Linked DNA regions of Homo sapiens. The protein of the gene in region 4 interacts with the protein of the main gene of each other region in a pairwise test. Each region holds a gene or a part of one and is shown on either strand. Other genes may lie near its edges.

Evidence for each region.
Region 1: the proteins of ZNF17 (region 4) and SET interact in binary tests that used the Homo sapiens proteins (3 or more experiments, as listed by UniProt).
Region 2: the proteins of ZNF17 (region 4) and ZNF438 interact in binary tests that used the Homo sapiens proteins (3 or more experiments, as listed by UniProt).
Region 3: the proteins of ZNF17 (region 4) and YJU2B interact in binary tests that used the Homo sapiens proteins (3 or more experiments, as listed by UniProt).

Annotation. Positions count from the first base shown.
Region 1 is NC_000009.12:128,684,811-128,693,181, reverse strand, and holds the start of SET (protein SET), read right to left. Parts: upstream 3,961-8,371; 5' UTR 3,600-3,960; coding exon 3,527-3,599; intron 3,209-3,526; exon of another isoform or gene 3,196-3,208; coding exon of another isoform or gene 3,156-3,195; intron 2,013-3,155; coding exon 1,955-2,012; intron 1,325-1,954; coding exon 1,182-1,324; intron 521-1,181; coding exon 417-520; intron 315-416; coding exon 201-314; intron 1-200. UniProt on the Homo sapiens protein: Multitasking protein, involved in apoptosis, transcription, nucleosome assembly and histone chaperoning. Isoform 2 anti-apoptotic activity is mediated by inhibition of the GZMA-activated DNase, NME1.
Region 2 is NC_000010.11:30,843,293-30,847,580, forward strand, and holds the end of ZNF438 (zinc finger protein 438), read right to left. Parts: intron 2,282-4,288; coding exon 1,669-2,281; 3' UTR 1,340-1,668; downstream 1-1,339. UniProt on the Homo sapiens protein: Isoform 1 acts as a transcriptional repressor.
Region 3 is NC_000019.10:13,743,035-13,751,923, reverse strand, and holds the start of YJU2B (probable splicing factor YJU2B), read right to left. Parts: upstream 4,030-8,889; 5' UTR 3,970-4,029; intron 317-3,969; 5' UTR 116-316; coding exon 113-115; intron 1-112. UniProt on the Homo sapiens protein: May be involved in mRNA splicing.
Region 4 is NC_000019.10:57,406,581-57,415,114, reverse strand, and holds the start of ZNF17 (zinc finger protein 17), read right to left. Parts: upstream 3,955-8,534; 5' UTR 3,724-3,954; coding exon of another isoform or gene 3,709-3,723; intron 3,682-3,708; exon of another isoform or gene 3,635-3,681; intron 1,520-3,634; 5' UTR 1,500-1,519; coding exon 1,479-1,499; intron 1-1,478. UniProt on the Homo sapiens protein: May be involved in transcriptional regulation.

The DNA.
Region 1 (8,371 bases), on a different chromosome or scaffold from region 4:
GAGATCTTCCTGCCTACATCTGTAGTATCTAATGAGAACCCTAAACTACTGTAATACTTGGCTTCAGCACACTGGAACGTTTTATATTTTAAGGTTTTGTATTTAGCCACATGACCAAAGTATCAAGCACTTGTAAGTGGTTAAAACTAAACTGAAATAGGCAAAATGCTATTTTTGTCAAATAATTCCTCAAAACATACCTTTCCAGATTTCCATTTGATTTCGGTGGACTTCGAAGATGGATCACCACTCTCATTCAGATGAAATTCTTTGGAGAGAACTTTATTTTCAAAGTAAGGATTTTCATCAAAATACTGTAATAAATAATTGAAAGATTAGAAATATGAACAGGTCTTCCAACCAAAGCTCACATTAATTTCCACAGTGGCAAACAAGATTAAGTTAGAGATACTTACAAAATCTATTCTGTAACCTGATTTAATATCTTCAAATTCTGTCACTTCAACTCTGGTCAAATAATGCAGTGCCTCTTCATCTTCCTCCCCAAGCAGTGCAGACACTAGGCCAGAAAATTACAGGTCAGCTGAATTTTCAACAGGCACACACTAACAACAATTTAAGTGATCCCTTTAAAATTTTTCCGAACTTAGTGAGCATCTTTGGTTTTATAAACCCATTATTAACTAAAGGCAATTGCTCAATATCAGACTGTCACTATCTTTCATCAAGCAATTAGAATATAGCTTCTCCTAAACAGAATAGAAAGCAGTAGCTGTATATCTTTTCCCGTCTTTGAGGTTTTTTTTTTTTTTTTTTTTTTTTTGAAACAGTCTCACTCTTGTCGCCCAGGCTGGAATGCAAAAGCGCACAATCTCGGCTCACTGCAACCTCCCCCTCCTGGGTTCAAGCGATTCTCCTGCCTCAGCCTCCCAAGTAGCGAGTAGCTGGGATTACAAGCGCGCGCCACCACGCCCAGCTAATTTTTTTTGTATTTTTAGTAGAGACGGGGTTTCAACCTGTTGGCCAAGCTGGTTTCGAACCCCTGACCTCAAGTGATCCACCCACCTCGGCCTCCCAAAGTGCTGGGATTACAGGTGCGCCACCGCACCCAGCCTGTCTTTGTTGCACGCAACCCAGCATGCTGGACTAAGTCTTCACCAAGCTTCCTCCATTCTAACAAACACTGTTTATCCTTTAACAATGCCCTGTCCAAAACATACCTTGTGGATGGTTGACAAATGTTGTTACCCAAAAATTTGGGATTTTGGCGATCAATTCTGACCTCTTCTGAAAAAATGGTTGGCGGAGTTTGTTATATTTCTGTTCTACTTTCAAAATCTCCTCACTGGCTTGTTCATTAAGTCTGAAGCAAATGAAAAGAGATGTTGACAATGATAGTATTTAACAAATTAAAAAATTGGTTGAGATTACAGAGTGTATTTACTTACTAGCTTGAGTCATGCAAAATAACCAAATTATAATAACCATTATCACCTAATTTAGACACTCAAAACTAAGATGGCAATTTTGTCTGATTTATCAATAAACACTGAGTAATAATGACTGTTAAGAGTGCCCAAACTCAACACTCTGGTAACGTGTGTATTTACTTCGCCCACTCCATTTCCAGTCCAATTTCAATTGTTTCCCTCAAGCGCGATTTCTAAATAAAGTGGCTAATCCATAACAAAGTTGTAAGGCAAGTTAGAGCAACCACTGATGCCACACTGCTAAACCATCAGAAGACCTACACTGCAATTCAGACAATTTTCAGTCTTTGAAAGCAAACCCAAACCTTGTAAGGTCAATGCACTTTCAAAAACTTCTGTACAATCACTTCACCAAAAAACACTGAATCTACATAAGTATTTCCAACCAAGTTAGAATCATTTCCCCTTTGACAGTGGATAGATTTGACCATAGCTTCGATAATTACCGGGCTATTAGACACATCTCAGAAAATTTCTCCGAAGTATATTAAGAAAAATGTTACCTGTCTATTTCATTTTGTACTTCATCAATGTGTTCAATCGCTTCTTGCTGTTCTTTTTCTGCAAAAAAGGAGCAAAAAACTTAATTCTAAGATAAATTTACCTAGTTTTCCAGATGTTAATACTATAATATTCCAAAAGCCATTAAAACAAAAACAAAAACGCCTAGTACAAAGGCAAGCGTTCCACATGTTCATGCTTGTAGCTGACTAATTTCTTTTTAATTAATTAAAAGACCATTTACAAGTCATGCTGTCTGCTGGTTTACTCAGAAATTGGTTTTCTATAGCGCCTTTTTAAAGAGTTTCACTACAACAGACCGATCATTAAGGTTTCTACTATGAAAGACACAGAATAACCTTATTCAGAAGTCTTCACGTTTATTATTTCACATTATACACTTGCAAGAGAACAGTAGCAGCTGCTAACTAGAATATGGAAACTAAACCCATGACAATGATACAAATTAGGCCACCACTACCACCTATCAAGGTAAAACCACCTTTCATAGAAAGTTGACGACTCTGCTATTACGATGAAGATACCAGGCACGCCTACAAAGACTGGAAAGTCACGGGGCACCATCCTACACCCTGGCCTTCGCCTTCTCAGAACATGAACCCCTCCAACCCAATTCAGGCGGGCAGACCTCAGATGCGGCCCCACACGACTTTGGAGCACTTACTGGGAGCAACTATGAGATCGGAAAGCAGTGAGGCACAGAAGGGAGAGGAAGAAAAGGGGGTGTGCTCTGGAATAGGTGCCCTTTTGTCCTGTAAAGACTACAAACCCCCTACAAAGCTAAGTGGGTGTGAAAGGGCCAGATCGCGCGGTTCATTTCCGGTAACCATCCCGGATTGGCAGCCCCCCTGCCGAGAGCCTCCTAGGCAGAGGCCAGCTTTCTTAGCCATTTCCAAGACCCCCGATACACTGGTCGCGGCGCCAGGTTTCTCCGCACGCTGGCGCGACGGGGCGGCCGCCCCACGTGGGGAGTGCGCCCGGGCTGGCCAGAGCATCCTCCCGGCCGGCCAAGGCCCAGCGCGCGGCCGCCCGCGTGTTCCCCGCGCCCCCACCCCACCCGAGCTCCAGGCAGAAGCCCCGCCGGGGCCAGCCTCTGGGCGGGGGTGCCGGGGGCGCCGCCGCGGGCCGGGCGCGAAGCGGAACCGCGCGGGAGGTCGGGCGCGGGGCCGCGTCCGGCCGCACCATGTGGCGGCGGCGGCGGCTGATGGGAGCGAGGCATCATGGCGGAGCACAATAAAGAGAGGCTTCTCGGGAGGGAGGGAGGGGGAGGAGAGCGAGGGAGGGGGGAGAGGAAGGGGGGGTCTCCTCCGCCCGCGCCGAGCAGGCCGCAGCGCCCCCGCCTCGCAGCGCGGCCGCCGCGGCGCGGGCCACCCAGGCCCCCAGCCCAGCCGCGCACAAAAAAGGGCGCCGAGTCCGCGGGCCCCCGCCCGGCCGCGCCGCGCCCCCCCGCCCGGCGCCCCCCGCGCGCGCCCCGGGCCCCGCCGGCGGCCTGCGGGCCGGGGCGGGCGGCGAAGATGGCGGCGCGGGCCGGCCCCCGGGCTCGCTGCTCTCACCTGAGGTCTCGTCGGCCCCGTCGTGGTTGGAGTTGAGCTCCTTTTTACTGACTTTGGCCGCCGGCGCCGACATGGTGCTGCTCCGCGGTCGGGGGGGGAGCGGGGAGGGGGAGAGAAGGGAAGGCGAAGGGGGCGGGCAAGCGGCTTCCCCTCACGCCACACGCGCGGGCGCCCGCTCGGTCCGGCCGCCTCCTCCCGGCGCTCGCTCGCTCTCCCTCCCCCTCGCTCGCTCGCGCGCGCTACCCTCGCGGCCTGACGCCGAGGGACGGGCTGGGGCGGCGTGCCGGGCCCCGGCCCGGGCTCCTGTTCGCGGAGGGGAGGCGGAGGCGGCGGCGGCGGGCGGCTCGGCTCCCTCACTCGCGCTCGGCGATCCAGCCAGCTCGCTGCTCGCTCTCCCGAGCCGCCTCCTCCTCCACCTCCTCCTACGGCGAGGGGCGGGCGCAGGGCGCAGGCGCGCCAGGCCCCGCGCGGATGCTCCGCCTCCGGCCGGGGAGGCTCGCGCCGCGGCGCCATTGGCCTGGGCGGCGGGATGAGGGGGCGGAGTCGCGGCGCGGAGACACAGGGCCCGGCGAGAGGTGGGAGGAAGGCGCGCGGCGACGCACGGCCGCCCCCCGCGCCGCGTCCCCTCCCCCGCTCTCCCCTCTCCGGCCCGACCCAGGACACTGGCGCGCGGCAGGCCGGTGGGCGGGGCGTCGCACGGAGGCGCGGGTGCCCCCGGCCGGCGCGTCACGTGGTGAGCGAGCGGCTTCCCTGCTCCGCGGGGCACCGGGAGCGGGGCGCCCACCACCCCGAAAGTGCAGGCCCGGCCTCGTATGGGGGCCCCGAATTCCGCCCGGCCTCTCGGCGCCTTCCACTTCGTGGAGAAAGCAGGGGGCACCCCATTCTGGATGCCAGATGGGGAACTGCCGATCGGACTCAAACTCGGGCTCGTGTGCGAAGCCCCAGGCTGTGTAATCCGCGCGCAGGGCCATTCCTGGGTTTTAGTCCAAGCCCTGCCCAGCAAGCTTGTACCCTTGAGCAAGTCACCCTTCCTCTCTGAACCCGTTTCTGTTATGAAATGATAAAGGTTACGACACTGAAGCCACATTAAACTCGAAGTCCTGTGAAGGCAGGGAGGTACCACATTAGTCCGCGGTGCCCAGCGCCCGCAAGAATCATACTGAGCGTTAAGTGCCAGTTTCAGCAGCGCATGGCACGGTTATCTCACCGAGGCCTCACAACAGCCCCAAGCGATAGGCGGTGTTCTGTTCATAGAGATGAAAGGGGCCAACAAGTTCTACTTGAGAGGCAAAGTTCTGAACCACTAAGGAGGGCCAAAGCATTTTGTTTAAATAATACTTTTCAAGTAATGCGGATGCCCCACATTCTGTCCCTCCAGCACCCCAAGACATGAACCATAAAAAGCCAGAAAAACCCTGATTAGTAGCATTTGTTTGTTTGTTTTGAGACGGGAGTCTTGCTCTGTCCCCCAGGCTGGAGTGCAGTGGCGCAATCTTGGCTCACTGCAAGCTCTGCCTCTCGGGTTCAAGCAATTCTCCTGCCTCGGCCTCCCGAGTAGCTGGGGCTACAGGCACGTGCCACCATGCCCGGCTAATTTTTGTATTTTTAGTAGAGATGGAGTTTCACCACCTTGGCCAGGCTGGTCTACTGACCTGGGGTGATCCACTCACCTCGTCCTCCCAAAGTGCTGGGATTACAGGCGGGAGCCACTGCGCCCGGCCAGTACCATTTGTTGATTTTAGTGATACGCTGGCCAATTTCAAATCCTGGCCATGCAATAGCTCACTCCTGTTATCCCAACACTTTGGGAGGCCAAGGCAGGAGGATCGCTTGGGCCCAGGAATTCCAGGCTTCAATGAGCCCCAATGCAGCCACTGCACTGAAGCCTGAGTGACAGAGCAAGACCCTATCTCTAAAACAAAAACAAAAAAATACCTGAAATCTCTCTTTGGACATTTTTAACCAGAACTTGGGGTTGGAATTCTGCCTTCCAGAACTCACACTTTACCATTGGCTCTTTTTTTTTTTTTTTTTTTTTGGTGGGGGAGGGGACCAAGTCTCATTCTGTCTTCCAGGCTGGAGTGCAGTGGTGCCATCTCAGCTCACTGCAACCTCCGCCTCCCGGGTTCAAGTGATTCTCCTGCCTCAGCATCCTGAGTTGCTAGGATTACAGATGTGAGTCACCACGCCCTGCTAATTTTTGTATTTTTTGGTAGAGACAGGTTTTCACCATGTTGGCCAGACTGGTCTCAAACTCCTGACCTCAGGTGATCCACCTGCCTCTGCCTCCCAAAGTGCTGAGATTACAGGCATGAGCCACTGAGCTCGGCCCACTATCAGCTCTTAAAGCTCAAGCAGCATCTTTCATGTTCAAGACAGTGCACGGTGAGTGTCTTAGCCTCCCGAGTATCTGGGATTACAGGCGCCCACTACCATGCCAAGCTAATTTTTGTATTTTTTAGTAGAGACGGGGTTTCACCATGTTGGCCAGGCTGGTCTCGAACTCCCGACCTCAGGTGATCTGCCCACCTCGGCCTCCCAAAGTGCTGGGACTACAGGCATGAGCCACCCACTGTGCCTAGCATAAACTAAACTTTGTTGCAAGTGACAGAACCAAGATTCTAAACCAAGTAGCAATTGACAAAGCCCTTACCTTAAAACAGTTTTTCTATTTTTATTGTTGTTATTATTATGAGACAGGGTCTCTCTCTGTCGCCCAGAACCATGGCTCACTGCAGCCTTGACCTCCTGGGCTCTGGGGATTCTTACACCTCAGCCTTCTGAGTAGCTGGGACCACAGGCAAGCACCACTGCCACCTTGCCTGGCTAATTTTGTTTTTATCTTTTGTAGAGAGGAGGTATCACCATGTTGCCCAGGCTGGTCTCAAACTCCTGAGCTCAAACCATCCTTCAGCCTCAGCCTTCCAGAGCTCTGGGATTACAAGAGTTAGCCATCGCACCCTGCCTCAGTTTTTTTAATGTGACCAACAGTCAGAAGTACTTTTGACATCATGACCTAGCACACACAAACCAAAACTTACCCTTACCAAGGGTGATGTGATTCTAATTTCCTATTTAAAATGCAGGTCACACCCCACCAAATTGATTTCACGACCCGCTCCTGGGCTGAGTCTGTCTGAGAACACTATGCCAAGGGCTGGCTGCTTCCATCCTCAAAGCCTGACCCATAGGGTCACTCCTGACCCACAATGTCTCCTAAGTGCCTTATCTGCCTGTTTCCCAAGCACCTGCAGGGGTCCCAGGGAACCCTGTAATGCCTTCTGATGGGGGAGTGGGCTTTCAGGTTCCCTTTCTGGCCTCCCAACCCTCCCTGCCACCTCCCTGCCCCTCTTTTCCTGCCCTTCCCCACACAGTGCTTCTCAAGATAAATATGAGCACACTAGGAAGTTGAAGAGAAAGAGAAAGCAAAAGGGCCAGGGGTGTGAGTAAACACAGGCGAGCCGGGGGCACACTGAGAGGTTATTCACCCACTCTTAGGACTCTGCTCTCTCCCCGTCTCCAACACCAGAAGCTCTGCATTCTCTCTTCTTGGCCTCTCCCCTCACTCAGAATTCCTCCCTTGCCTCTCTCCTCTCCTCCTGGCCCCTCTGGTTGTTTTTTTTTTTGTTGTTGTTGTTGTTGTTCTTGTCGCCCAGGCTGGAGTGCAATGGCACGAACTCGGCTCATTGCAACCTCCGCCTCCGGAGTTCAAGCAATTCTCCTGCCTTAGCCCCCCAAGTAGCTGGGATTACAGGCATGCATCGTCACGCCTGGCTAACTGTCTTTGGTAGAGATGGGGTTTAGCCATGTTGGCCAGGCTGGTCTTGAACTTCTGACCTCAGGTGATCTGCCCACCTCGGCCTCCCAAAGTGCTGGGATTACAGGCGTCAGCCACCGCGCCCGGCCCCCGGCTCCCTTTGAAGAGGACAGAACCCCACCGCCAGAAAGACTGGAACAGAGAGAGGCTGGCATTCCCCCACAGTGCTGCAGTGTCCCAAGCACAGACCAAAAAATCTCCAGAGCCTGGAACATCTCCCCCGCCACAGACACATACACATCTCTTTGAGCCTCCTGTTCTGATCTGTAAAATTGGGATGTCCACAGCATACGGCTGTGAGGATAGAGAAGTGCTTGGCACAGCTTCTGGCATGCCATCAGTGCCTACTAAGCAGCAGGAGCTGTTCTTTGGGTTTAGATGAACCCCCTCACACCTTTCCATCCCTTCCAGTCCTGTTAATGCTCCCAGGAAGCTCACTGGAAGGAAACTAGGAAGACTCACCCACATTTTGCTGCGCACAAATGCACTCTAGAGCACTGATGATGTGCTAGGCGCTGTCTAGTGCTCCCCTTAGATTTCAGACTCACAGCAAGCCTGGAGATCAGTACTGTGGATCCCATTTTATAGAAGAGAAAACAAGCACAAGTTGTTTTATGTGGCTCACCCAGCAAGGTAGGTTTCAAGCTGGGCAGGAGGTCTCTGCATCCCATGTGGAGGAAAAGGGACTGAGACCCAGTAAAAGTGCCAACAGGTCCACACTGAGCCCTGAGGTAGGACTCCTCCTCAGTGCTTCTTCCATAAGAGTTGCCTGCCCTCAGCCAATCAAAGCTTCCCGTTTCCTTGCAGGCCCTGGGCCTATCCACACCCAGCCCAGGAAGGCTCCACCACAACCCTCCCCTATGAGCCAGACCTAGTCACCAGAACAGTCAACTCTCTATCCAGCTCCAGCTACGTCTCCCAAAATGCAGCCCTCACCTCTAAGTTTAATGGGGGGAAGGGCAGGCATGAAACTGCTGGTTACAATGTAATGACAAGAGGGTGAGGCAGCATGACTCTGGGACTCCTAA
Region 2 (4,288 bases), on a different chromosome or scaffold from region 4:
GGGTGTATTCTGTCCCACACCTTTGTCTCCACACACTCCACTCTGCTTTGGCCAACCGGCCAGTGTTTCTAAAATACGACTTAGCATCTGAGGATTGAGCAGTCTATGAATTATTTCATAGTTTGAATTCAAGTTTCATGGTTTGAATTCAAGTAGTATTCTTTGTAGAAGTCATTTGGTAATGTCTTTGAGACCAATATTTCAAAAAACAAACTGGGAACTGGTTTGAATGGTAAAGCGACTTCATTATTAACCAAGAAGTTCTAAAACTATCAAACAGTGGAGGTCTGATATTCCCTATTTGAAACTGGGTAAAGCGTGATCAACAGACAAACCACAACACAATCTTTCAGATATTTCTATCCCTACTCTCTTATTCCCAAATTTACAAAACTATTTGCAAAAAGACAAAGATTAAGTTTTCTCTTGTACTATTTGAGGCAAATCATGTCTACAAACACTGGCTTTTAAAATCAGACATTAAAAAAAGATGTAAGATCCATCAGCTTATCAATTAGAATTTAGTTCTTTCTCTGTTTAGGTAACTTCCTTGAGCACAAAATATTATGACCATACCTGGGCTGAGTTTCAGCAAACAGGGCTGGCCACACGTATGGTGCTTTCATCCAAGACTGAGATTATCAGTAGGATGAGTGCTGAAACTCCACTTTTCTAAGAAAATGATTTTGCAGCCAGGATGGCCAGAAGCTTCAAATGACAACTTTACTGATTCGAGGTAATTTCCCAGGAATTTAAGAGGCAATCATTTACTTCTGACTTTCAAAGAGAACTGGGCTTGAAAAGTACAGTTCCATCTAAAATTGATCAGCTAGCGACAACCCTCTGAAGTTACTTGGGAGTGAGGGAAAGCAGTTGAGACCCCTACACATCTGGACTGAACTATCTAGTTCATTTTCCAGGTTGTAAATTTTCTGGTCCCAAAGACTACTTGAAAATAACTTTTTACCAAGCAAGTAGACTTTTTATTAGCTGAAGTACTAAATTTTTTAAAAAATTATTTTGATATGGAACACTACAGCTATAAGACTTGCCAACAACTAATCTTCAATGAAATGTGCATTTAAGAAAATAGCAAAATTACAAGAAACAAAAATCTGAGTCCTGAAAACATGGATTTTAAATTATTGTAGATGACAATCTTATTAAAATACTGCTCTATATCATATTCAAATAAACCAGAGAATTTAATAAATATCAGCATTTACCATCTAACTTGATACTATGGTTGAGATTAAAAGGGTTTTGCTGCCTGGACATTTTTGACATTTGTCAATCTATATAAGCAGAAAACATCTGAACAAAAGGAAGGACACATGCATGTTTTCACTGAGAGCTGTATTTGAAGAACAGCCTATATTCTGCTAAATTTCAATCTTCAAATTTTGATCTTTTTATTTATTCTGAAAGTCTAAGATATTAAGAATCAGTACGTATTTTAAAATAAGACTGCATATAGTTAGAAAAATATGCTTCGAGAGCTTATATTTTATTTCGTTAAGAAAATAAAACCATGTACAAAAATCATTTCTGTTCACTCACACCAATCCTGTTGTTTGATCTTTGTGACTAAGCACCACCATAAAGCACGAAGCTCTGAAGGAAGGTGGCGGCAGAGCTCTCTCCTTAACCCCAGGCTGCCTTGGGGTCTCATTTCTCAGCTTCACTGGAAAGTTCGATCACTCCCTGGTTGGAGACCGTATTTAAAATAGCCCACAGTTTGGAAGGGTCCTCACAGTTATGCTGGTGCTTCCAGTGGTGGAGGAGGTCCTCTTTCCGTCCCAGCATCTCTGCACAAAGCAGGCAGTTAAAGCCTGAATGGGACCACAAGAGAAACGTGTGGAGGCCAGGACACTCAGGGCCCTGGCAGGTTTCCCTTGGCTTGTTGGTTCCTGACTGGGGTCCTTCATTTTCCATGAGCATTTCCACGCCATTCTGATGAAGGTGGAGCTGCCTTTTCAGTCTTGGACATGCATGTGATTCCTCGGAGGAGGAATGAACCTTCTCCGGCTTCCCTCTCTCAGGATGCCTTTTCCAGTCGGGGCTAGCGTGCTGCACCAACTCTTCCTGAGTCCCCTTGCTTCCTGGGAAGGTCCCTTCTTGTAGCCTGCCCTCAATTTCCTCTCCATGAACATCAAGTAAATGAAATTTTATTTCCGCAAAAGACTGAGCAGTAATCTGACAACGACCACATTTGATTTGTAATTTGACTTCGTCTGCCTGGTTTAGAAGGAAGTCTTCTTCCAGGTTGGACTTGTTTTCCCTGAAAAGGCCAATAATAATGAAGATAAGATTTCATGGAAAAATGCAATTGGAATCTTTCCTCTCAGCTGTCAGCCTTCAGGGATCTAAAACATAACACTGACGAGAAAGACAAGGGCTGGGGTAAACAGAGAGCACCTGGGAAGACCTTCTGCAAGGACCGTGGTGAATACTAATTGTCACTCCTGCTTGTGGCCACACATTTCTCCAGCTACCAGGGTTCATTTAGTCAACAGTCCTCTTCACGCATCTGTCCCAGGCGAGCTAACTCGTCTTTGGTTACCACAGGGACAGGAGCAATCACGTGGAAGAGTCACGTAAGAGCGCGTGAAGGGCACGGGAACACCCTCGGTTCTGTTGAAGGTAACGGTCCCACCCTACCCACTGTGGCTCTCCCTAACCTTGAGCACCAATACCTTCTATTCAATTTTGGCTCACTCTGTCATGTTCAGTAAAAATAAAGGGTGCCTACCCTATTTCTTCCTTGCTTTTCTAGAGTTTCTCCTTTTTCTTAGACATTTCTGTCCCCTTTAAGACCTCTGTGCCTTTCACTAATGAACCATGAAACCTCACTTCTTCCTTCTTTTCCTAGAGTTAGATTTTGATTTTTAGGTACAATGTCCAAACTACATTTGGCAAGAGCGTCTGTTTTCATTTGGGGAAGAGGAGAAGATTTCATATTCAGAAAGGAGCCAGTGAGCACCCAGCTGAAGGTGCAGCCGGGACTTGTGGGGCTAGTCCTGAGAGTGTCAGGTTCATTTGTGCAGGGTTGGCCAGGGCCACTGCACCACCTGCACCTTGCCTGCTGTTGCTGCTGGGAAAACATGGAGAGGAGGTGGGCAGTCCCTGAAACCTGCCGCCATGAGAGCCACTGCGATGGGGCCAGGCTGAGTCACCTGCTGGCAGGGGAAAACAGCACACTAGGGCATGCAGGAGTGGGTAGAGAGGGGCCCTGAGGCAGAGCTGGGCCAGGGGTGGTGCCACACTTCATGGAGCCAGTGGGAGCTGGGGACAAGCACGAGCCCTGCCCTTTCCAAGTTGACGGTGTGGGAGCTTACCAGGCACAACTGCCTGCAGCTGCCCAAGCTGCAGCTGTGACCCAGGCACCCCTGTGCTCTTGGAAGCTGGGAGCAGGCAGGAGCGCTCCTGCCCTCCCAGGCATCACTGTAGCTACCCTGCTGTGGCTGCAGATCCAGGCATCTCTGCACTCTCAGGGGTCCAGGAAGGCCCCTTTCCCCCCACGGGCTCAAGAAGCACCTGCTCCTGCTGCCTGGCTTCTCCCTGCTGTCAGCACCTGCTCCAATCTCAAAGCAAGGCTGGGGCTGAGCCTGGGCTCTGCTGTAACCTGGTTGGGTGTGCACACGCTTGAGGCAGTGCTGATATGCCCACCTCCTACCCCATTGGCCTGCTCCAGACTTTGGGTGCCAATAAGCATGGAAGGGAGGCTGAGGAAGGGGTGCTCAGGACAGCTCGGTGCCAGCCTGCAGGTGCCCCCTCAGCATGAACAGCCTGGGTGCCATAAACAGAAGCAGGGAGCAAAGAAGCTCCTGGGCAGAAAAGGGGAGGTCCCCGGTGAAGCCCCACCTTCAAGCCAGAGAAGCCCTGAAGCCTGGGGGCCAGGTTGCCAGTCATGTGGACTGGAGTGGGAACTTGTGGTGCTTTTCTGGGTCTGTCCATGACTGCCCATGGACCAACTGCACGCATTTCCTCTCCTCTGAGGCACATAAAAGCCCCGGACTTAGCCAGACTTGAAGAGACAATGGGACGACCAGTGGCAGAGAGGAGCTACCCTCTCTGCTGAGAGCACAAGAGATGACGGGGAAAACCTGCCTGCAGAGAGGAACTGCCCCCTGCAGTTCAACTCTGAGCTGTTCTATCACTCAATAAAGCTCCTCTTCATCTTGCTCACCCTCTACTTCTCTGTGTACCTCATTCTTCCTGAACGCAGGACAAGAACTTGAGACCTGCCAAATGGTGGGGCTAAGAGAGCTGTAACACAAACAGGCTG
Region 3 (8,889 bases), about 44 Mb from region 4:
ACCCGGAGATTGAAATCATCATCTTAGAGCTCTGGGAGGGGAGGAGGGGCTGCTTCCAGGGTCCTACAAAGACTGGGAGAGAAACCCAGGGCACACGAGGCTGTCTACTCACCATCTTGGGAGCTGCCTACTGGTCCTCAGCCTCGGGGCGGACGATCAGAAACTGGCCTTGTGAACACACTGCACTGTCCTGACCTCTTGTGGAGCCTGGCAGAGGGTCCACAGGCTTCCCTGCGAAGATGTCGTGGGCCGTGTGGTGGTGCCAGCTCAGACAAGACTCCCGCCAGGCATAGGAGGCATCCAAAAAGCGGCGTGTCTGTTTAGAAAGAGAGAGTCCCGTCCACTCTACAGCCAATATACGCATCACATCTGACACTTTCATCCCTCTGTGGCCCCCACCGGGTCCAGCACCCATCATCACTCACGTGGGCCAGCACGGTCTTCTCTCTCCCGACTCTGCCCTTGACACTTGCTCACCCCACAGCTGCCCAGGGGATCTTTTTGTTTTTTGAGATGGAGTCTCGCTCTGTCACCAGGCTGGAGTGCAGTGGCGCGATCTCTGCTCACTGCAACCTCCACCTCCTGGGTTCAAGTGATTCTCCTGCCTCAGTCTCCCGAGTAGCTGGGACTACAAGCGTGCGCCACCACACCCAGCTAATTTTGTATTTTTAATAGAGACAGGGTTTCACCATGTTGCCCAGGATGGTCTTGATCTCTTTACCTCATGATCCACCCGCCCCAACCTCCCAAAGTGCTGGCATTACAGGTGTGAGCCACCATGCCCAGCTGGGATCTTTTAATATGAACAAACGTGTCACTCTCCTGCTTAAACCCCTCCCATGATTCATATGGTTTTTAGAATCAAGTCAAACCCCTTCCCACGGCCTGTGGGGCCCCTGCCTGCCTCTCCAAGCCTAACTCTTACCCCTCTATCTCTCGTTCACTCTGTTCCAGCCACACTGGCTTCCTGGCTGTCTTCAAAGGCCAAGTGCAGCTGGCCTGCACCTGCTGTTCCTCAGGTTTGCAAGCTCTTTGTTACAGGCTTTTTTTTTTTTTTTTTTTTTTTGAGACGGAGTCTCACTCTATCACCCAGGCTGGAGTGGGGTGGCATGATCTTGGCTCACTATCTCTGCCTCCTGGGTTTAAGTGATGTCATGCCTCAGTCTCCTGAGTAGCTGGGATTACAGGTACCCGCCACCAAGCCTGGCTAATTTTTTTGTATTTTTAGTAGAGACAGGGTTTCACTGTGTTGACCAGGCCAGTCTGGAACTCCTGGCCTGAGGTGATCCACACACCTAGGGCCTCCCAAAGTGCTGGGATCACAGGCACAAGCCACTGCACCCAGCCCCCTGTCACAGGTCTTGACCTACATATCATATCCATCAAAGACCTCATCCGGCCAGGTGCGGTGGCTCACACCTGTAATCCCAGCAGTTTGGGAGGCTGAAGCAGGTGGATCCCCTGAGGTCAGGAGTTCAAGACCAGCCTGGCCAACATGGTGAAACCCCATCTCTACTAAAAATACAAAAATTAGCCGAGTGTGATGGTGCATGCCTGTAATCCCAGCTACTCGGGAAACTGAGGCAGGAGAATGGCTCAAACCGGGAGGCGGAGGTTGCAGTAAGCCAAGATGGCGCCACTGCACCCCAGCCTAGGCTACAAAGTGAGACTCCGTCTCAAACAAACAAACAAAAAAAACCAATGAACTCATCTAACCATCCAATCCATAGTCACTTGTTTCCTGGAATTCTGATCATATCACCCTGTGTCGGTTTATGTCTCCCCCGGCAGGTCACACTGTGCCATATCCCTAACACCTAGGACAGTGCCAGGCCCAGATAAATGTCAACTGGGTAAACAACTGAGATAACTGAATGAGGCTCCATAAGGGTCACAGTCAGTGCAGGTGACACAGGTGGGAAATGCAGGGGCTCCTCAAACTAGGGGTGGTGAGACCCCCTCTCATGTTTGGAAGGGAGGCTTTTAGGTCATATAGAAGGAAGTTCTTCACGCCTGTAATCCCAGCACTTTGGGAGGCCGAGGCGGGTGGATCATGAGGTCAGGAGATCGAGACCATCCTGGCAAACACAGTGAAACCCCGTCTCTACTAAAAAATACAAAAAATTAGCTGGGCGTGGTGGCGGGTGCCTGTAGTCCCAGCTACTCGGGAGGCTGAGGCAGGAGAATGGCGTGAACCCGGGAGGCGGAGCTTGCAGTGAGCAAAGATTGCGCCACCACACTCCAGCCTGGGCGATAGAGCGAGACTCCATCTCAAAAAAAAAAAAAAAAAAGAAAGAAGTTCTAGTTTACACTAAAGAGAGACTCTGTGAAGCAGTGAAGGGTATTCTAGAACAGAGATTGGCAAAGTTTCTCTGTCAAGGGCCAGAAAATAAGTATTTCTAGCTTTTTAGGCCAGATTATCTCTGCCCCAACAACTCAACTCTGCTTTCATAGCTAGAAATCAGTCCCAAACAATATATAAATGAACGGGCGTAGCTGCATGCCAATATAAATTTTATTGATGGACACAGAAATTTGAATTTCACATAATCGTCATGTCACAAAGTATTATTCTTTTGATTTTTCCCCAACTACTAGAAAATTTAAAACCATTCTTGGGGGCCGGACTCGGTGGCTCACGCCTGTAATCCCAGCACTTTGGGAGGCTGAGGCAGGTGGATCACTTGAGGTCAGGAGTTCAAGACCGGCCTGGCCAACATGGTGAAACCCTGTCTCTACTAAAAATACAAAAATTGGCCAGGCCTGGTGGCGTACGCCTGTAATCCCAGCTACTGGAGAGGCTGAGGCAGGAGAATCGCTTGAATCTGGGAGGCGGAGGTTGCAGTGAACCGAGATCACGCCACTGCACTCCATCCAAGGTGACAAGAGTGAGATTCTGTCTCCAACAAAAAGAAAGAAAGAAGCTGATGGAAGAGCTTCTGATGGAGTGGGAGTGGTGTAGTGAGGTGGTGAGGCAGTGGTGCAAAGTCCCGGATATAAACTGTTCTACCCTCACCTTAGTCTTGTATCCTCCAACTATAAAGTGTGTCCTTTAGATTGGATTATTCCAAGGTCCCTTCCAACCTAAAAATACTTTTGCCAACAAAATAGCTAAGTGCCCCTTGAGGCGTTAGGGGACACGGCTCCCTGGGCTTGAATCCCAGCTCCACTCCTCATCAGCTGGGTGACCTTGGTCAGTGACTGCGCTTCCCTGGGCTTGTATTTCGTCACCGGTAAAGGGCGAATGACGACGACAAGACTGACTTTCTGGGGATGCTGTGAATCAACTAACCCACGGGAAGAGCCTGCAAAGAGCAAATACTCCGTTTACAGGAGCTCGAGGGTGTGTGTGTGTCTTAAGATGGTTTTGTTACCCCAGTAAATGGCAGACGGGGCTATCGGGTGGGCGTGTAGATATCTCCGGTCCTTGGTGCAAAAGTAATTACCGACCCTGTTTGTCCTGGGCTTACGGCTTGGGCTCGGAGCTCCACCCTGCTGCTTCCTATCTGCTTGACTTGGGGCAAATTGTTTTCTCTCTCTAAGCCTCATTTTCCTTATGTGTAAAAATGGCTGGTTAAGGCATTCAGGGCAGCGCCTGACGCCGAGTTAAACGTTTGGCAGTTTAGTCATTTCTGCTGCTCACGGTTTTACAAGAATCATTTTTATAAAATCTGGTGAGATAGGGACTTATTGGTCCCATTTTCCCGATGCAAAAACCCAGGACCCTTCAGGCATAATATGGATCCGGGCTAGGATGGGACCGGGTCCCGGGCACTTGGGTCAGAGGTCTCAGCTGGGGCCTCAGGGACTTTGGTCCTGGCTGGGACCTGGGCCGGCTCCGGGCATCTAAATCGGGTCCTCAGCTCCGCGTCCCCCGACGCGGAAGGGCGCGCCGGGCAGCTCCGAGGCCAGGGTGAGGCGGCTGCCGGACCCCCGGCCCTCCCCGCTCCTCCGCCCGCCGGCACTTACCTGCCCTCCTCCCGACGTCACGCCCTGACCGTGCCCGGAAGTGCGCGCTGAGAGCGCGGTGAACCTGGGCGCCCTCTCCGCGCCCCCAGGACGCCGGCGTGAGGCGGGGCGAGGCAGCAGCTCCACGCTGATTGGCTGAAGGACGATACGCCAAGCGTTCTGCGACGCCGGAGTGGGCCAATCCAGGAATGCCCCGCCCAACCGCGCTTACGCCAAGAGGCTCCATCCTCTGTCCAGCCCACTACGTGAGGCCCAATCCGAGGCCCGCCTCCTGGCACCGCCCTCCCAGGCGTGCTGTCCTGCGCGCTGCAGCCGGTCAGCGAGGGTGTGGTGGCGGGCCCCTGTAGTCCCAGCTACTTGGGAGGCTGAGGCAAAAGAATTGCTTGAACCCGGGAGGCAGAGGTTGCAAAGAGCCGAGATCGCGCCACTGCACTCCAGCCTGGGCAACAACAGCAAGACTCCGTCTCAAGAAAAATTATTTGCACAGGCAAGGTCTTACTATGTTGCCCCGGCTAGTCTCGAACTCCAGGGCCCAAGCAATCCTCCTGCCTCCCAAAGTGCTGGGATTACAGGCGTGAACCACTGCTCTGTTTTTGCATTTTTAAATAGTTAGGTGGGGGAAAAACTATTTTACGACTTATGAAAATAAAACATTCAAATTTCAGCGTACGTAAATAAAATTTCATTGGAACACAGGGATATGCGCTTTTGTCTGCTGATTGCTTCAAAATAAGGGCACTTGGGGGAACAGCAAATGCAGGGAAGGAGAGGTTTTCTCTGAATTTCTCTTATCTGCCTAAAGACAGAAAGAGGAATGCTTTCCTACGATCTTATTAACTAGGGAAGAGTGAAACCATTCCCAATCATGTATCCTTCTGAGGGCTGCTCTGAGACAACTTTTATTACCTGCAAGACTTTTTTATTTGCTTAACAAGACAGACTTTCTCCATCATACAATTTCTCCCCTTACCCTCCCATAACTTGTGTTACCACCATCCTCCCAGAAGCCCCAAACCCCTATTCTTTTCTTTGATACTTTTTTTTTTTTGAGAGGGAGTCTTGCTCTGTGGTCCAGGCTGGAGTTCAATGGCGTGATCTCAGCTCACTGCGCTCTCCACCTCCCAGGTTCAAGTGATTCTCTTGCCTCAGCCTCCCGAGTAGCTGGGATTACAGGCACCTTCCACCACGCCCGGCTATTTTTTGTATTTTTAGTAGAGATGGGGTTTCACCATGTTGGCCAGACTGGTCTGGAAGTCCCAACCTCAGGTGATCTGCCTGCCTTGGCCTTCCAAAGTGCCTGGATTACAGGCATGAGCCACTGGGCCCAGCCTCTCTGATCCTTTTTGGAGTCTTGTATTTTGTGGGACTCCCCTGCATAGGTACATAATTAAATATGGCTTTTGCCCTGTCTGTTTACATGTCAATTTAATTCGTAGCCCAGCCAAAGAACCTATAAAGGTGAAGGGAAGCCATTTTTCACCTACCTACAAACAGCCGGGCCCATTCATTTATCTATTGTCTATGTCTGCAACAGGGTTGAATTCAGTGGTTGCCACAGAGGAAGAGAGAGCCCAAAGAATCTAAAATATTTACCATCTGGCCTTTTACAGAAGAAGTGGGTGGATACTTCTCTTAGAGCCTTCAGATTAGCCTGGCCCTGCCTTCTGCACAGGTGAATGGCTTTTGAATTTACTTTTTTTTTTTTGAGTCGGAGTCTCACTGTCACTCAGGCTGGAGTGCAGTGGTGTGGTCTCAGCTCACTACACCCTCTGCCTCCCAGGTTCAAGTGAGTCTCCTGCTTCAGCCTCCCAGGTAGCTGGGACTACAGGTGCCCGCCACCATGCCTGGCTAATATTTGTATTTTTAGTAGAGATGGGGTTTCACCATGTTGGCCAGGCTGGTCTCAAACTCCTGACCTCAGATGATCTGCCCGCCTTGGCCTCCCAAAGTGCTGGGATTACAGGCATGAGCCACTGTGCCCAGACTGAATTTACTTTTATGCCTTGTAGGGCCTAACAGAATCTATTTGTTCATTCAACAGCTGAGCTGTTCATTGGACACCTGCTATATGTCTGGTCCTGGGGATTCAGAGAGGAAAGAACACACTCTTTTCTCAGTGATGAAGCAGACACTTCAACTGGCAATTTATCAAAGACAGGGTGAGAAGTGATGACAATATTACTACTATTCCTCCTGATATATATATATATCTATATATATATATATAGATATCTATAGATCTATAGATATCTATATATCTATATCTATCTATCTATCTATCTATCTATCTATCTATCTATCTATCTATGGAGTTTTGCTCTTGTTGCTCAGGCTGGAGAGCAAAGGCACAATCTTGGCTCACCGCAACCTCCACCTTCCTTCCGGGATCAAGCGATTCTCCTGCCTCAGCCCTGGGATTACAGGCATGCGCCACCACACCCAGCTAGTATTTTTAGTAGAGACGGGGTTTCTCCACGTTGGCCAGGCTGGTGTTGAATTCCTGACCTCAGGTGATCTGCCCACCTCGGCCTCCCAAAGTGCTGGGATTACAGGCATGAGCCACTGCGCCCGGCCTCCCCATGCTTTATTATTCGGTGCCAGGTTCCATCTCTGTTCTAAAGCCGGGCTCTACTAACAAATGAATTCTTACATAGTCATGGTGCTGCATACTGAGTGCTCACTACCCACTAGGCACCACTGAGCAATGCTTGGTGCTCACTCACACATGCATAATCTCATAGAATGCCCCTAGAAGGTAGATACTTTTCATCATTTCTGTTTTACAGATGGTGAGACAGGCCCAGAGAGGTTAAGTCGCACAGTTAGTGAGGGGTGGAGGAGCTGACCTACAACTGCTCATGCTAAACCTTGTTCCCTTGTCCTCTGAGCTATACTGTTTTGGGTTGTATGCATTTGACTTAAAAGACCATGAGACCCCAGAAAAATCTTTTTTTTTTTTTTTGAGACGGAGTCTCGCTCTGTTGCCTGGGCTGGAGTGCAGTGGCATGATCTCGGCTCACTGCAGGCTCCGCCTCCCGGGTTCACGCCATTCTCCTGCCTCAGCCTCCCGAGTAACTGGGACTACAGGCGCCCGCCACAACACCCGGCTAATTTTTTGTATTTTTAGTAGAAACGGGGTTTCACCATGTTAGCCAAGATGGTCTCCATCTCCTGACCTCGTGATCCGCCCGTCTCGGCCTCCCAAAGTGCTGGGATTACAGGCGTGAGCCACTGCGCCCGGCCTAACCCCAGAGAAATTTTTAAAGAGGGTAGGGTGTTTGAGAATGGGCTGGAGTGAGGGTCAGTAAGACCCTGAGACAGAGCAGGGATCCCCTTTTTTACGAGACCCCAAGCATGGAAACAAAGGAAATTTCTGAGTTCCTTCAAGGGAAATTCCAGGCCCCTAGCTAGCCTTGAGAAGTAAATAAGTAACTTGTTAAACAAAAAAGACATAATGATCCAAAACAAAAGCTAAGGAAGTTAGAGTCCCAGAGATGTTTGGTTTCCCTATAGAAATTAAAGATAACATCTTAACATATGTCCCTGAATTGTCTTTCAGAGTCTTGGAAACCCCAGATAAGGGGGAAGTGAAGACTAAACTTTATGTCCCTTTTGTTCCAAGTTTCCTCCTGAGGGGCTTGGAGAAAGTTACTTCCCCTAACCAGTTGACATGTTTCTACTGACTCAAAATTTTTAAACAAAGCTTCTCTTCCTTAATCCATTGCAAATCAGAAGATGTTTAAATCTTTTTCTTTTCTTTTTTTTTTTGAGACTAAGTCTCTGTTGCCCAAGCTGGAGTCCTGTGGCGTGATCTCGGCTCACTGCAACCTTCACCTCTCGGGTTCAAGTGATTCTCCTGCCTCAGCTTCCCAAGTAGCTGGGATTACAGGCACCTGCCACCATGCCCAGCTAATTTTTGTATCTATAGTAGAGACGAGGTTTCACTATGCTGGCCAGGCTGGCTTGAACTCCTGACTTCGTGATCCACCCGCCTCGGCCTCCCAAAGTGTTGGGATTACAGGCGTGAGCCACTGCGCCCAGCCTATTTTTTTCTTTTTCTTTTTTTTCCTGAGACTGAGTCTTGCCCAGGCTGGAGTGCAGTGGCGTGGTCTCGGCTCACTGCAACCTCAACCTCCCAGGTTCAAGCGATTCTCCTGCCTCAGCCTCCCGAGTAGCGAGGATCACAGGCATGTGCCACCGCATCCGGCTAATTTTTGTATTTTTAGTAGAGACAGGGCTTCGTCATGTTGGCCAGGCTGGTCTCGAACTCCTGACCTCAGGTAATCCTCCCATCTTGGCCTCCCAAAGTGTTGGGATTACAGGCGTGAGCCACTGCGCCCAGGCTTTCTATTTTTTTCTTTTTCTTTTTTTTTTCCTGAGACTGAGTCTTGCTGTCGCCCAGGCTGGAGTACAGTGGCATGATCTCGGCTCACTGCAACCTCAACTTCCCAGGTTCAAGCGATTCTCCTGCCTCAGCCTCCCGAGTAGCAAGGATCACAGGCATGTGCCACCACATCCGGCTAATGTTTGTATTTTTAGTAGAGACAGGGCTTCGTCATGTTGGCGAGGCTGGTCTCGAACTCCTGACCTCAGGTAATCCTCCCATCTTGGCCTCCCAAAGTATTAGGATTACAGGCGTGAGCCACCGTGCCCTGCCTAGATGTTTAAATCTATCTACGACCTGTAAGCCCCCACTTTAAGATATCCTGCCTTTTTAAGTGGAAACCAATGTGTAATCTCCATGCATTGATTTATGATTTTGCTTGTAGCTTCTGGTTTACTGAAATTTACACCTGCCTTAAAAAACCCCCACCTGCAAGCCATTGGTGATTTCAGGTCTTAAGCATGAGCTGCCCTGATTCTCCTTGCATGGTGCCCTGCAATAAACACCTTTCTTTCTATCACTGCAAAGACCTTAGT
Region 4 (8,534 bases):
ACTGTGGCAGGAATTATCACCCAGGTATCCTTGGTTCTTCCCTAACTCTCACTCTGTCCTCCATTCTGCAGGCAGAGGAAGCCTCTTAGAATCTAGGTCAAATCTGGCTGGGTGCAGTGGCTCAGGCCTGTAATTCCAGCACTTTGGGAGGCTGAGGCGGGCAGATCATGAGGTCAGGAGATCGAGACCATCCTAACACGGTGAAACCCTGGCTCTACTAAAAAATACAAAAAAAAGTTAGCCGGGCATGATGGCAGGTGCCTGTAATCCCAGCTACTTGGGAGGCTGAGGCAGGAGAATGGCGTGAACCCAGGAAGCGAAGCTTGCAGTGAGCCGAGTTCACGCCACTGCACTCTGGCCTGGGCGACAGAGGGAGACTCCGTCTCAAAAAAAAAAAAAAAGAATCTAGGTCAAATCACCTCTTTTTTCTTTCTCAAACCTTCCCTAGCTACTACCCCCCTCAGATTAAAGACCTAGAACCACTGGGCACGGTGGCTCATACCTGTAATCCCAGCACTTTGGGAGGCTGAGGCAGGCAGATCACTTGAGGCCAGGAGTTCGAGACCAGCCTGGCCAACATGGTGAAATCCTGTCTCTACTAAAAATACAAAAATTAGCTGGGTGTGTTGGTTCATGCCTGTAATCCCAGCTACTTGGAAGGCTGAGGCAGGAGAATTGCTTGAACCTGGGAGACAGAGGTCGCAATGATCCGAGATCACATCAATGCACTCCCGCCTGGGCGACAGAGTTAGCCTCTGTCTGGAAAAAAAAAAAAAAACAAGGCCAGGTGTGGTGGCTCAAGCCTGTAATCCCAGCACCTTGGGAGGGCCGAGGCAGGCAGATCACGAGGTCAAGAGATTGAGAACATCCTGGCCAACATGGTGAAACCCCATCTCTACTAAAAAATACAAAAATTAGCCGGGCATGGTGGCGGGTGCCTATAATCCCAGCTACTCGGGAGGCCGGGGCAGGAGAATCGCTTGAACCAGGAAGGCGGAGGTTGTAGTGAGCTGAGATCGCGCCACTGCACTCCAGCCTGGAGACAGAGCAAGATTCTGTCTCAAAAACAAAACAAAACAAAAACAAAAACCTAGACAACCTCAGGCTGCCATTCCATGCCTGATCCCTGCATGCCCCGACCTCCTGCCCTGCTGCTGTGCTCCTTATCCTTGCCAGCTAGAACATTAAGCTACAGTTCTCTAAGCATCCCATCTAAGTCTCACCACCAAGCATTTGAACATTCTAGATCCTGTGTTTGAGATGCCTTGCCAAATCTCAAACCATCAGTTGTGAGAACTAGAACCACTCTATATAACCAGGCACTGAGTTTGGAACCCAGGTCTGGTGGAACTACAGGCTCTCCTTGGACCCAAGGGAGAGAGAAGAAAAGGTGAACAGTCTCAGGATAACACCATTCCCTATATCAGCATGCTGAAACCATCTGGGATGGGTGAAAGCTGGAAACACTCTCCACTCACCTGTCCAGCATCCATAAGCATTGCTGCCACTGCTATGAACCCTGTGGGAAGAGGCAGGCCATGAGGATTAAGACAGCATTGCAGCATCCTACAGGCTGACTGTACAACCACCTCTGGCCCTGCAACTAGAGCAAAGTTATCTGAGGGTACACAGTAAGTCCTCAGGGTTCAGTGTCTTGATGAGGACTGAACTTCCTTAAGTCTCGGTGCCCTTATGTGTAAAATAGAGATTAAAAGGATTGCCAACTAATAGGGCTTATATGGGCATCAAATATAAGTAGTACACACTATGTATCAGCAATTTCTTTCTACTGGATTAAATATTTTTTACATGTTTTCGGTACAAATGACATGGAAGGGTTTTGAAATTTTGGGTGTGTATTTTTCCCACTTCTTACGGTGTTAAGGAAATGTGATACATAAAACTTTCCATTGCAAGCAAATAGAAAAATTAACATTCAGCCGGGCATGGTGGCTCAAGCCTCTAATCCCAGCACTTTGGGAGGCCGAGGTGGGCGGATCACGAGGTGCAGAGATCAAGACCATCCTGGCCAACCATGGTGAAACCCTGTCTCTATCAAAAATACAAAAATTAGATGGGCATGGTGGCGCATGTCTGTAATCCCAGCTACTCGGGAGGCTGAGGTAGGAGAATCGCTTGAACCCGGGAGGCAGAGGTTGCAGTGAGCCGAGACCACGCCACTGCACTCCAGCCTGGCGACAGAGCGAGACTCCGTCTCAAAAAAAAAAAGAAAAAAGAAAAATCAACATTCAACAATTATTAAGTGAATAAATTTAACTATTGGTTACATTCATTTCTAACTGCCGACCTATGTGTACATATTTAGAAGGATACTGGTTCATTAGTGGTTAAATAAATGTTTTATACATTCGGCCGGGCGCGGTGGCTCATGCCTGTAATCCCAGCACTTTGGGAGGCTGAGGCGTGCAGATCATGAGGTCAGGAGATAGAGACCATACTAGCTAACACGGTGAAACCCCGTCTCTACTAAAAATGCAAAAAATTAGCCTGGCGTGGTGGCGGGCACTTGTAGTCCCAGCTACTCGGGAGGCTGAGGCAGGAGAATTGCTTGAACTCGGGAGGCGGAGCTTGCAGTGAGCCGAGATCGCGCCACTGCACTCCAACCTGGGCGATGGAGCGAGACTCTGTCTCAAAAAAAAAAAAAATGTTTTACACATTCATAAATAAATAAGTTGCAGGGAGGGGATAAGCAAGCAGGTCAGTTACTGGTCCCATCAGCAACCAGGCCTGCCTGCTACAAATTCAGTTGCTGGAAGCTTGCTGGAGGCCCTTGACTAGATGTGAGAAAGCCCTACCCCCGTCTGGACCCAATGTCCCCACTAGTCTGGATGACCTTCCTATTGTTCCACAGAGTGGGCCTGGGGGGCTGCTGGGTCTGCAGGTGCAGAAATCTAAACCACCTCACACCTCAGTCTCCAGCCTAGGCCAGTTCCTTAACCCATTCAGAACTCCGTTTTTGCAGATATGAGCCAGAATCCCTCCTATGACAGGTCTGCGCCTTTCTAAAGGTAGCGTCAGGCTTATGGACCCACCCATGATCTGCCCTCCAAAACTCAGCCCTCCAAAATGCAACTCATAATCCTCTCTGAAACCTGCTCCCTAAGCTGACTTCTCCAACTCCATTCTTTCAGATTTTCAGGCCAAAACAAAATCCATGGAATAGACCCTTCACTACCCTCACTGCTACATTTGATGCAGCAGGAAATCCTGTCGACTCTATCTCTGAGATCCATCCAGAATCTCATCACACTTCCCCTCTACTGCAACCCCTCTGGCCCATCCCTACCATAACTCAAGGGGTCTCCTCAGCGGTCCCCTTGTCCTGGTTTAACATCCTGTTTTTCCCAACTTTAAACGTCTACCTCTGGGCATAACCCTTCCTGCACAGCCTTCTACGGCTTTCAGCAGCTCCGCTGCCCTCCCAGGCGAGACTCCGCCTCACCCTCAGCTCCGTGGAGACAAAGACGCTCGGGCTCCCCAGTGCCGCCCGCTCTGCAGCACCTCTAAGCCTCGCACGTGCAGGTCCCTGACAGGAGCTCCCCCGCCTCACAGCACCGCGGACACCGGTACCCCACACAAGAACGCTCCTCTCTTTGGGACACAGGGGCCTGACCTGCAGGGCCCCTCCTCGGGGCTTCGGCACTCGGAGGAGGGATCGGGCGGGGCGCCCTGGGACGCGGCACCCACCTCAGTCAGGTTCATCGGCGCAGCCTCCGCCAGCACAGCCAGGGAAGAGCGGGGCGGGAGCGGCAGTGACCTGGACGCTGACAGAGGCACCAACGCCTGCAACCGATTCAACCGAGCCTCACTCTAGCCTCTGTACAACGGGGAAACCTTTTCTCGCGTTTTTCCGCTTTTTCACCTCAGTCTCGACTCAGCCTGAAGGTGAACAGATCCCAACGCAGCCATATTGACAACCCCAGGAGGCGTTGCAGGAAGTCCCGCCCACACGCATTGCGAACCCCCGTAGACGCCGCTCTGCTAGGCCTTCATTGGCTACACTCGCTGCTTGTGTCCGCCGCTGTGTCTTTTGGGTAATGTAGTTCCCAGGCCACTGCCTGCCCCGCTTCTGAACTTAAGTTAACTCGCGTTCAGGATGAAAGCCAGGAGGATCCTCCTGAGGCTTTGAGAAATGCAGTTGCGGGGCTCCAAGGACGTGGAGGGGCTTCATTGGCTTTTAAACGGCAAGCATCCAGATTTTCCCGGAAGGCAGTCTAGAACAAGTCAGAGAAATGTTTCAGAGACCTGTCCTTTCAGATTCTGTAAAGCACAGCAAGTTCCCAAAAGACGAACATCCGAAGGAACATGGCCAACCATAAAGAACTGGTCTTCCACGCATAGCGGTCAGCTCTTTTGTGCTTGCCAAATACACACAGAACGAAGCTCTGGAGACTGTTTTATGATCTTCAATGTGCTCTGCTGGGCACATTGAAAAGACCCAGACATGGCATGATGGGGAGTTTGAGGAGTAATATCTTTCCTTTCTGAATAATCAGTTATTGTCTTTCAGCCTACCCAGCAACACTTTATTCACATGATACTTATTACTTTATATCTGAGATATTTTCCACTTATTTTAAGAGACTGAAACCTAACTGAAAAGGAAAAGCGACTTATCTACCATTATCTGCCAGAATAGTGTGGCCTTCCACCAGTCAAAGCCCTTGTGCAAAGAAAGCATCTTACTCCTGAGATAAAGGTTTGGGAATGCATGATCTCATCTCATTAGTGGAAAGTGATTTATCATTTCGCCTGAAATTGTATCAACAGTGTCTGCACAGGGAGTTGAAATTGTCTCTGAATAACTCTTGTGAAATGGCTATTACTGAAACTATTAATGACGATTATGTAGATATCCAAAGAAAGTGGCAAAAATAGTTATAGAGAAACATATTTGTGATAGGAGGAAAAAAGCTAAGGTTGTCCTGGAACCTTGGACACACTCAAGTTTGGTGTCCAAAATCTGATTCTTTTTCAAACTTGAAAACATTGTGCATTAACAGCTTGAAGGGAGAGGTAAAGACTATATATTAAAAGAGTTACCAGAAAAGTAAAGCTGAATAGGGAAACTGTGCTGTCGTATTTATTACTCTAACATATTTGATGAACACTCATTCGATGCCAGGTACAATACTAAGTGCATGGGACACATTAGGAGTAGGGTTGCTAGCTGTCTGTGGTCCTCTAAGACACGTAAGACGTATTTAATGAATTAGTCCTCAGTCCTGTATTGACCTTGTCAGGTCACTTTAAATGTCCTGTATTCCGCTTTTTACAATAAATTACAAAACCTCAGAAGTTAGAGCTATTTTTCTACCACTATAATTGTAAATTAAATCACTTAGCAGCTATGTTAGCTGAAAATCATACCCCCACAAATAAAGATATGGACATAGTCTTGTGATCTCTCCTGCAGAATTGGTGAGGGAAAAATAAAATGGAGCACTGAGATATTCAGTAAAGGAGAAGACTGTTTTTTGGCCAAAGTCTTGAAATTTGGTTTATCAAATTACAAAAAGAAGGAAGGAAGGAGAGAGAAAGAAGGAAACGAAAGGAAAAGAAAAAACCACCCAACTGAAGGTCTGGAAGAGTTAAAGCTGTTCAGTAGTGCCAGCTACATGGAAGTTAAGACGGGAGGATTACTTGAGTTCATAAGTTCAAAACCAGTTTGGGCAATATAGTGAGATCCCCGTCTCTGAAAAAACTGAAAATTAAAAACATGTTAATCATTTACCAACAATACATCCCTACCATCCTACAATTCTATTTCTAGATATTTACCAACAGAAACTAAACAAACTTTTTTTTTCTTTTTTTGAGATAGAGTCTCTCTCTGTCGCCCAGGCTGGAGTGCAATGGCACGATCTCGGCTCACGGCAACCTCTGCCTCCCAGGTTCAGGCGATTCTCCTGCCTCAGCCTCCTGAGTAGCTGGGATTACAGGCATGGCCACCACGCCTGGCTGATTTTTGTACTTTTAGTAGAGACGGGGTTTCACCATGTTGGCCAGGCTGGTCTTGAACTCCTGGCCTCAGGTGATCCACCCGCCTCAGCCTCCCAAAGTGCTGGGATTACAGGCATGAGCCACCTCGCCTGGCCCAAACATCCATCTAACACTTGGTGACAGGCCACATATCTTTGTGTATGTGTATGTATATATATATATATATATGGAGAGAGGGAGAGAGAGAGAGTCTCGCTCTGTTGCCCAGGCTGGAGTGCAGTCACACGATCTCAGCTCACTGCAACCTCTGCCTCCTGGGTTCAAGCAATTCTCCTGCCTCAGCTCCCGAGTAGCTGGGACTACAGGTGTGCACCACCACACCTGGCTAATTTTTGTATTTTTAGTAGAGACAGGGTTTCACCATGTTGGCCAGGCTGGTCTTGAACTCCTGACCTCATGATCCACCCGGCTTGGCCTCCCAAAGTGCTGGGATTACAGGCATGAGCCACCATGCCCAGCCCTTTCAACATATTTTATTAGGTGTTTCGCTACCTTTTGAAATTCCACTTTCATGTAATGAGCGGCTGTATGGTGACAATGGCCCAGGAGGCTCTGGACAGTGAGTGGACATTCTCTCCTTATGTCCCCACAAGGACCTCGTCTTGTTCAATGTTCCGACGTGTTTCCACTCATTCCTGTTCCTCACACTTCATCACCCCACCACTTGTAGACAACAATTCTAAAGGTCTGTTGTGTGTTTTTGTATTTACATGTGTTTTAGAAAGAGGAGCACTGTTACTTTTTGTGTAGTTTAATTGTACTGTACTATAGACTTCTTTCTCCCTTTGTTGGTACTCAAAATGTGTGTTTAATATGTATATATACTCCTGTGTCAAAGTCTACTTAAATGCTAGTAACTGCCCTGTTGTACTTTAGTGTGGACATTCAGTCTTCTACTTCACTCATAGATGTCTTTGGTCCTCCTCTTACACTTAATGCTACAACATATTGTCTCCATGTCCCTGCTGCCTTGAACAGTATTGTGAGAAAACTTCTCTCACATAAGAATTTATGGACTTGACTGAGAGATATACCAGAAACAGGCTTTCTGTGTCACATGATATTCTAGAAAATCATTTTTTTTACAGTACCTGTGCAGATTGCTTTATGAAACTGCTACAGTCTTTGACTCTTCCATGAAATATACATGATTGCAGCTACATCACCCCATATTTCTTTCCATAGTATAGTAATTTATAGAACTTAAAGTAACATGCAATAATATCTAATTTGCATTTCTCTGACACCGAGTTTGAATATCCATTCATATTCTTGATAACCATCTGATTTTTCTCTCTTGTTTATTGTATGCTCGTGCTTTAGTTCATTTCTAAGATCTCTGACTTTATTCCTTTAAGAAGAATCTGAAACTTTGGCTGGGCACAGTGGCTCATGCCTGTAATCCCAGTACTTTGAAAGGTGGAGGTGGAAGGATCATTTGAGTCTAGGAGTTCGAGACCAGCCTGGGCAGTATAGTGAGATCCCCGTCTCTACCAAAAAAGTTAAAAATTAGCCAAGCATGGTAGTGCGCACTTGTAGTCCCAGCTACTGGGGAGGCTGAATGGGAGGATTGCTTGAACCTGAGAGGTGGAGGCTACTGTGAGTGAAGATCACGCCACTACACTCCATCCTAGGTGAAAGAGACCCTGTCTCAATAAAAAAGCAAAAAAATCTAAAACTCGCATGCCTAAAACCGTAAAACTGGGCACATTTAGATATTTTAAATGTCTTCTCTGAGTCCCTGAACTCACTCAGTTTTGACTCATAATCTTTATGAAATAGAAAGCTTGAAATTTAGATGTAATTATATTAATTTGTTTTTTCATGTAACATTTTGTGCACTCTGGGATCAAAGAAAGACTTATCAGAGGGTAAATTCTGAGATCATTTTGTAGGTCTCACTCCAAAATTGTTTCCTTTCCATTTTCTATTTCTTACTCCCTGTTGACCTTTGTTAATTTTAATTTTTTCTGACATGAGTAGCTTAGTTGGAGGATAATATGAGATGGTGCTTATGAATGCTCCTAACTCCGGGCATGTCACATCATAGGTATTAAATATAAATAAAGTTTTTCCCTCTGTTCTTTCTGTATTATTGTATCTTCATTTCTTTTTCTTCTCTCTCCTTTTCTTTAAACTCCTAGTTTTGCCTGTTTTTTTCCCCATACTCTACCTTTAATCAGTAGGAGACAAAAATTCTAAACATCCCATTCTCAATTGCAAAATAAACTTTTAAAATCCCCCAGAGATTGCACAACCTAGTCCACCAAGTGAAACACCTGAGCACTCCTAGGGCGCTGAGGTTAGGCCTAAATACCCTACTGCACCCACTTCAGCCATCTCCTGCCTACAAGCGCCATCTGCTGGTCTAGTGGCTGGCCCACAGAGCCCGCTGCAACCACTGCTAATGAGCACAGCAAGTGCGACCCAGAAGAGTTTCGCACCACTGCCACCACCATCACGGATGCCACACCAGCAGCCCAGGGGCTCAAGAGTGCACTCACATGCTT